2 linked regions of the Homo sapiens genome follow. The protein of the gene in region 2 purifies or fractionates together with the protein of the main gene of each other region. This does not show direct contact. Each region holds a gene or a part of one and is shown on either strand. Other genes may lie near its edges.

Region 1 (3,500 bases), on a different chromosome or scaffold from region 2:
GAATCAGTCTGCTTGGGGACACCGGCAAGGGGCTCTGGATTCTTACCCCCTCCCTTGGCTTCCTGCTGGCAGGGCTGTGGTGCCTGGAGCTGGTGTCCATTCCCTCGGGCCCATTGTCTGACCTCCCTAGGCACCAAGGTGCAGTGAATAATTAATACTCCCCTCAGCTGGGGGCAGGCTCAGGGAAATAGCTCTATGTTCAGTGAGCTTCTGAACCCTACCAGAGGAGGTGGGGGCTCCTGTCTGTGCTGTTAGCAGTCTTGGATATGGGGGGGCAGGCAGGATAGGACAGGGAGAAAGTGTCATCTGGCCCCCAACAGGAGAGAGCTGGGGTTGATGATGTCCTGTCTCTTCTGTTGGGGGCCAGATGGTCCCACAGGCAACACTGGGAACCAAGCTAGCTGAGCTAGGATCAAGTGGGCCTCTGATTCCAGAGAGGTGGTGACGGGGAGGAGTAAGGGGGAGGGTACAGGGCAGAAAGGGGTGGAGGGGAGGCCCTTGAGGACTGGAGTAACCAGGAAGGCTTTGTCAGGGAGGTGGCTGTCTGGGCAGGAGCTAGAGGAAACTTGCTGCAAAGACGGGGGGTCCTGACATCCCTCCAAGAAGGAATCCTGGCTGTGCCACCGCCTCACTGAGAGCATGGGAAAGACACATGATCCCATCAGGCCTCCATTTCCCCCTTTGTGAAATGACGGTTGTGATGTCCACTTCTCAAGGCTGTTAAGGATCATCTTGAGGTCCCATGTGTGAAACACACGGCACTTTAGGCACTCAACAAGGGGGTGCCTCATCATGAGTGTGAGCTAGTGGGCTAGTGGCGGGGCAGGTGGGATAGCGTGGTAAGCCGAGAGGTAGGGAGAACTTGGGGCGAGGAGGATGGCTTGGTGGGGTTAGTGAGGGGTGAATGCCCATATAGGAGAGGGCCTTGAATGTTAGACAGAACTCACATTTCAGAAAGCTTAATGGAGCCCCCATTTAGAAGCCTCTGTGGCTCCTTACGGCCTGTAAGATGAAGACCAGGCCCTAGTTATGGCATTCAGGTCCTTGGTCACCTTAGCCTCTGCCCGGCCTTCTGGCTCATTGCTCTGCACTGTCTCCTAAACACACCACATGTGGCCCCATCACAGCCCCTTTGTTTGTGGTTCCTCCCATCAGAACCGCCATCCCTGCCTCTGCTCCACTTACCTCCCCACCTGTCAAGACCTGACTGAGGTCATAAATTCCCTCAGAAACATTCCTGGATTACCCAACCCTCTGGTCATGCCCCCTCTGAATCTTTAACATTCAGCAGTAATAGTAAAAAATAATACCTACTATCCATAACATTTTGCAGTTTGTAAAATGTATCCACACAATACTACAGTGATGATATCAACAACAGCTGATATCTTGAGTACTTACTATGAGCCAGACAATGTGCTAAATGTTTTATAGACACTCTTGTTCACACAAACTCCCTGAGGTAGCTACTGTTATCCCCTAGAAACTGGGGCTCAGAGAGGTACCTGATCTTGCCCGAGGTCACACAGCTCAAAGGTAGGGAGCAGGGAGCCAAGCTGCATCTGTTTGAATTGTAAATCTGTGCTTAGAAGATGTCCTGTCTCCTCACCTCCACCCAAGTACCTTGAAAGCATACTTTGTGTGTAAAAAGCCTGGACAAGGTTTTTTCTCAAGGCTAAGGAAGGGCAGTGTTGGACTGAGCATGGGGCCCAGGAAGGACCTGGGCCCTAGGCCGTGCACAGGCTGGCTGGTTGTCTGTGTGACCTGGGGTGAGTCGGCCCCTCTCTGGGGTCCCGTGTGTCCATGTCTATGGGGAGCAGGGTGGGTTCTGAGCTCCCCTGTAGCTCCAGCTTTCTACATCGTCTTTCGTGACCCTGGAGGGAGGAGGAGGAGACCACAGCACCAGGGCCAGAGGATGTGGTATGACGGGCAGCTGTGATTTTTGGCCTGGCCACTGTCTGGGCCAGCAGGCTGTGTGGGTAGCTGCCTCGCCCAAAGGAGGGTGGTGGCCTGAGCTGCAGGCAGCATGGTCATTAGCTGGCAGAGGAGACCCTGTGATTGGGAACTGGCTGGGCCAGGCCAGGCCAAGTTGGCGGGACTGGAGGCAGGCTGGCCGGGCCACAGCGGGGTCACTGGCAGGGCAGCCAGCTTCTCCTCCCTTTGCCCCCTTTGGGGTGGTGGCAAACACACACTGGGCACCAGAGCTTTGTAGGCCAAGGCTTACCCTTTCTCCTGCTGTGACCATGGGAAAGAGCAGTAAGGAGTTCAACCAGGTCCAAAGATGCTGCCTGCTATAAGCTTCCAGTACTCCTCCCATGCAGGTGGGATCCAAGCCTCCTCTGCTGCTGATTCATGGCCCTCTGCACACTGACTGTGGTCTGTGGATTGGGGTTCTGCTTGGTCTGCTTCCCTTGCTGGCTTGTCAAAACTAGATTCTATGTGCCCCCACCGAATCCTCCCCTCCCTCTGAGTGCCTAGCAGTGTGCCTGGCACAGAGCCACACCCTCCGGGCCAGGGGAGGCAGTGCAAGCTGCCCCATGGACAACTTGCTCAACTTTTGCACCTCTGTTTTTTCCCTGTACATTGGGGCTGATAATAACTGTTATTAAATGAGATGAAGGAAGTGGGGTGCCTGTCCAGGCCTGGCACACAGGTGGGTACTCCATCAGCATGAGTCTTCTTGCCCATCCCCTCGATGGCTTCGTGAACGAGCAACTCAGTAAGAAGCTGATGGAAGAGTCCAGTGAGTGATGGCTGGAGGGAGGGCGTGCCAGATGGCAGGGAGGCCTTCCCTTAGGGGGACTTAGCTGGGGTTTGCAGATTCACAGTTCCCACCACCTTCCCTGTGAACAGTGGTGTGTAAGCAGGTGCTGTTGGCCTGGAAGGGTCCCGAGCTAGGTTCAGGGGAGGGAGCAGGACTGGGATATCTGGGGACTTGGGTTTTCTTCTCAGGCCTACGCAGAAGAAATGACCCAGGTGGGAGAAGCCGTCTGGCGTCCAGCTAGCAGATGCTGGGCAGAGAGTGTGAGTTCTTCCTTAAAGGGAAGCAGCATTTATTTGGTGCTGCTCACACACACATCCAACCGAAATGTAACATGGTTGGAGATTCTGGTCTGTGGGGGAAACAGCATTAGACAAGGAAACACACAGATGCAAAACTTCCAAATTGTGAGAAGCAGGCTCCTGAGGCAGGGGCCGGTCCCATCAGTATCTGTGGCTGGTGGCACAGGGTAGGGCTAAATGACTTGGGCAAGTGATTTAACCTCTTTGGGCTTTAGTTTCCCCATATGTAAAATGGGGATAATTACAGCATCTTCATCATAGAGTTGTGAGGGTGAAATGAATTATACGTGTAAAGCACTCAAAAAAATGCCCAGCACATAATGAGCACTCAGTGCAGGTTAGCTGTTATGATCTGTATCTCCAGCACCTCACAGAGGATCTTAGAGAAAACAGGTGCTCAGGAAAGGCGTTTGGAATGAATCCCAGGCAAAGGGCAG
Region 2 (3,154 bases):
GCCGCACCACCCTCCCCATCCCCTCTCAATGAGTGCTTTGTCTTTTCCTATCGAGTCATGGAAGCTCTCTATATATTAAGGTTACCGATCATTTGTCCAACACATGATAGGTATTAACTTCTGGCCATTTGTCTTTCAGCTTTTTCTTTTTCTTTTGTGGGGTCATGTTATTATTTATTTCCTAGAAATTTAAGATGTTTATGCACTCAGTTCTGCCACCCTTTTCTTTGTATCTTTTCTGGGTTTTAGCCCCTGCTTTCCTTTCCTTCCCTTCCTAGTTTTATTTTTTTTTTAAGTCTCCTCTATTTTTTCTTCTGTTTTTCTTTTCTTTCTTTTTTTTTTTTTTTTTGAGACAGAGTCTCACTCTGTAGTTCAGGCTGGAGTACAGTGGCATGATATCAGCTCACTGCAACCTCCACCTCCCGGGTTCAAGCGATTCTCCTGCCTCAGCCTCCCAAGTAGCTGGGATTACAGGCGCCCGCCACCACGCCCGGCTAATTTTTGTATTTTCAGTACAGACAGGGGTTTCACCATATTGGCTAGGCTGGTCTCGAACTCCTGACCTCGTGATCTGCCCGTCTCGGCCTCCCAAAGTGCTGGAATTACAGGCGTAAGCCACCGCGCCCAGGCTTTTCTTCTGTTTTTCTAGTGTTGTTTTAGGTTGACAGCTTTAGTCCAGCTGGAAGTCCACTGGGGTGGACATGTGAAGTTTAGGGTCTTAGTGGTTTCCTGTCTGTTTCAAGCCATCAGCCCTGTTTCTTGCTCTTGGCGATTTGAGCCGGGAGCTGGTGAAGGAGTTGGATCAGGGGCCCAGGGAATCTGGGAAGAACAGCTAACGTGGCTGGGAGCGGTCCTGGAAGGCCAGGGAAAAGCTGGGAGAGCTGGAGAAAGCCAAAGAGCAAGGGCAGGGAGGCGAGGGAGGGAGGAGGTGGCGTGGACTGGAGGAAGGACGGAGAGGACCCAGGCCCCAGGTCCCCACCCACCCCTCCCTCGGGCGTCCTGCCTAGCAGCCCCCGGGACACCGCTCATGAATTGTCACTCAACCCAGAGGAGTGGCTAATGGTGGCCTTTGGGTGCCAATGGCCAATTAGTGGTGGGAAAAGGAATCTTCCAGCATCCCCGGGGGGCCGGTCTCCCTCTCTCCCTATTCCTGCATCATCTGATTTGTTCTGGGTAAGGTCTGAATAGCAGCAGGGATTTGGGGCCCTTCTGCCTGGGTTCAAATCCCAGCAATGCCACTCAGCAGCCGCGTGACCTGGGCCAGCTCCTTAACCTCCCTGGGCCTCATTTTCCTCCCCTATAAAATAGGTAGTAATAGGCACTCCTTCCCCGGGGCCTTGGGAAGCAGCAGTCAGCACCTGGATAATGTGTGCAGCGGGCCAGCCCTGCCAGAAGAGCCGCCCAGGGATTCTGTAATTAAATTAGACTCACTCTAATTCCACTGGATTCACTCATCTGCACGAAGGGCTGAGAACGGTGCTGGGCCCTTGCGAGTGCCGTCCAGGTGGCGGCTGTTGTCATGATTACCTCCCACCTGCCCTTTTGTGTATGACACTCTCCTGGCCCCTCACATCAGCCCTGCGCCAGCCGAGCTGGGGCCCAGAGAGGGAGAGCGGCTGCCCTGAGACTCAGCAGCAGGAGAGTCAGGGAGGTGGGGACCCTGGGTGAGACCCTAGGCTGTCAAAGCCCATGCCCTGGCAGGTCCTTGGGGAGGAACGTGGGTCGTGCGGTCAGCTTTGCTGTGACTCCTCCCACAGTAGCTGCTCCTGGTCCCTGGACCTGGTGACTGGGACCAAAGGCTTCTTGTCCGGGCGGGATGGGGGAGGATCCGCACAGCCTCCAGCCAGCACACACTGACCCCGGGAGGTGCGGAGCCGGGGAGAGGCAGGCAGGAGGGAGAAGCGGATGGAATACCACTCGCTGCTACTAACTTGTGAAACATTTCATTAAATGCCCTCTTAATCAAGAGTAACCACACCAGCAGTGAAGCATCTTGGGAGTCTGAGCACGTATGTGTATGGTAGGGGAGGCCTGGCATGAGACCCCGGGGATGGGCAGGGCAGAGTTGAGGTGGGGCGGGGACAGCAGGAGGGAGAGAGTAGGATGGGGGCACAGAGCCGGCCTAGAGGGGTGAGGGTGCCGCCAACTCCCTCCCATCCACTAAGCCAGCGCTGGGTAAGCACCATTGTGCCAGGCCCCACCCCAGGCACTGGGGTCAGCAGTGGCTAGGTCGGACATGCCACTGTCACGGGAATTCCGCACTGGTGGGGAAACTGACAAGATAGGCAGCCGGGACCCTGAAAGATAAATACCCACAGGGGCACATGTGTTGGCAGAGGAGGTCCTCAACGCCGACAGGAGGTCAGGCAGCCTTCCAGAAATGAATAGAAGGTAACCAAGTGAGGAGGAGTAGGGACAAGCATCCTGGCAGAGGGAACAGCATGTGCAAAGGCCCAGAGGCCAGGTATAGGAAAATGCGAACACAGATCCTGTCTGTCTGGCTCTGGCTGGAGTCTGGGTAAGGGTGCTGTCACCCCCACCTCCTCCCGCCTCCTGCAGTCTTCCCACCAGCTCAGAGCCCCAACGTTTGAAAAGCATCACAGCTCCACTTAAAGGGAACAGAGAAAACCAAACATGAAAACTGTCGGTCCTCAGTGGCTTGCCCAACACAGGCCTGCAGGAAGAAGGAAGTAGCCCAGGGCTGATTGCACGCACTTGGTGGTTGTCCCTTTCTGTCCCCAACTGCATGAGCTCAGCTGTCATTTATCATTTCTCCCTGGGGAGTCGCTTCCTACGCCCCTCAGCTTCTCCCACCATTTTCCCCCCAACTTCAGGGCTCAAGAGGATCCACGCCCTGACCACACAGGCTGCCTACGAGCTGCACGTGGACCTGGAGGACTTTGAGAATGGCACGGCCTATGCCCGCTACGGGAGCTTCGGCGTGGGCTTGTTCTCCGTGGACCCTGAGGAAGACGGGTACCCGCTCACCGTGGCTGACTATTCCGGCACTGCAGGTGAGGCTCCAGCTGTGGCAGGGATGGGGAAGGGGGGCGGCCTGGGAGGATGGAGGACGGAGGAGGTCCTGCCCTCCAAAATGATCAAGGCTAATGTATTTTTCCCCCTTTGAAAGTAATCAGGTTTTTGAAAAATAACA

Evidence for each region. The genes of interacting proteins can lie anywhere in the genome.
Region 1: the proteins of FIBCD1 (region 2) and GDPD5 purify together in Homo sapiens (co-immunoprecipitation; one large-scale study listed by IntAct). This does not show direct contact.

Annotation. Positions count from the first base shown.
Region 1 is NC_000011.10:75,519,442-75,522,941, reverse strand, and holds part of GDPD5 (glycerophosphodiester phosphodiesterase domain-containing protein 5), read left to right. Parts: intron 1-1,084; exon of another isoform or gene 1,085-3,500. UniProt on the Homo sapiens protein: Glycerophosphodiester phosphodiesterase that promotes neurite formation and drives spinal motor neuron differentiation.
Region 2 is NC_000009.12:130,905,094-130,908,247, reverse strand, and holds part of FIBCD1 (fibrinogen C domain-containing protein 1), read left to right. Parts: intron 1-2,834; coding exon 2,835-3,014; intron 3,015-3,154. UniProt on the Homo sapiens protein: Acetyl group-binding receptor which shows a high-affinity and calcium-dependent binding to acetylated structures such as chitin, some N-acetylated carbohydrates, and amino acids, but not to their non-acetylated counterparts.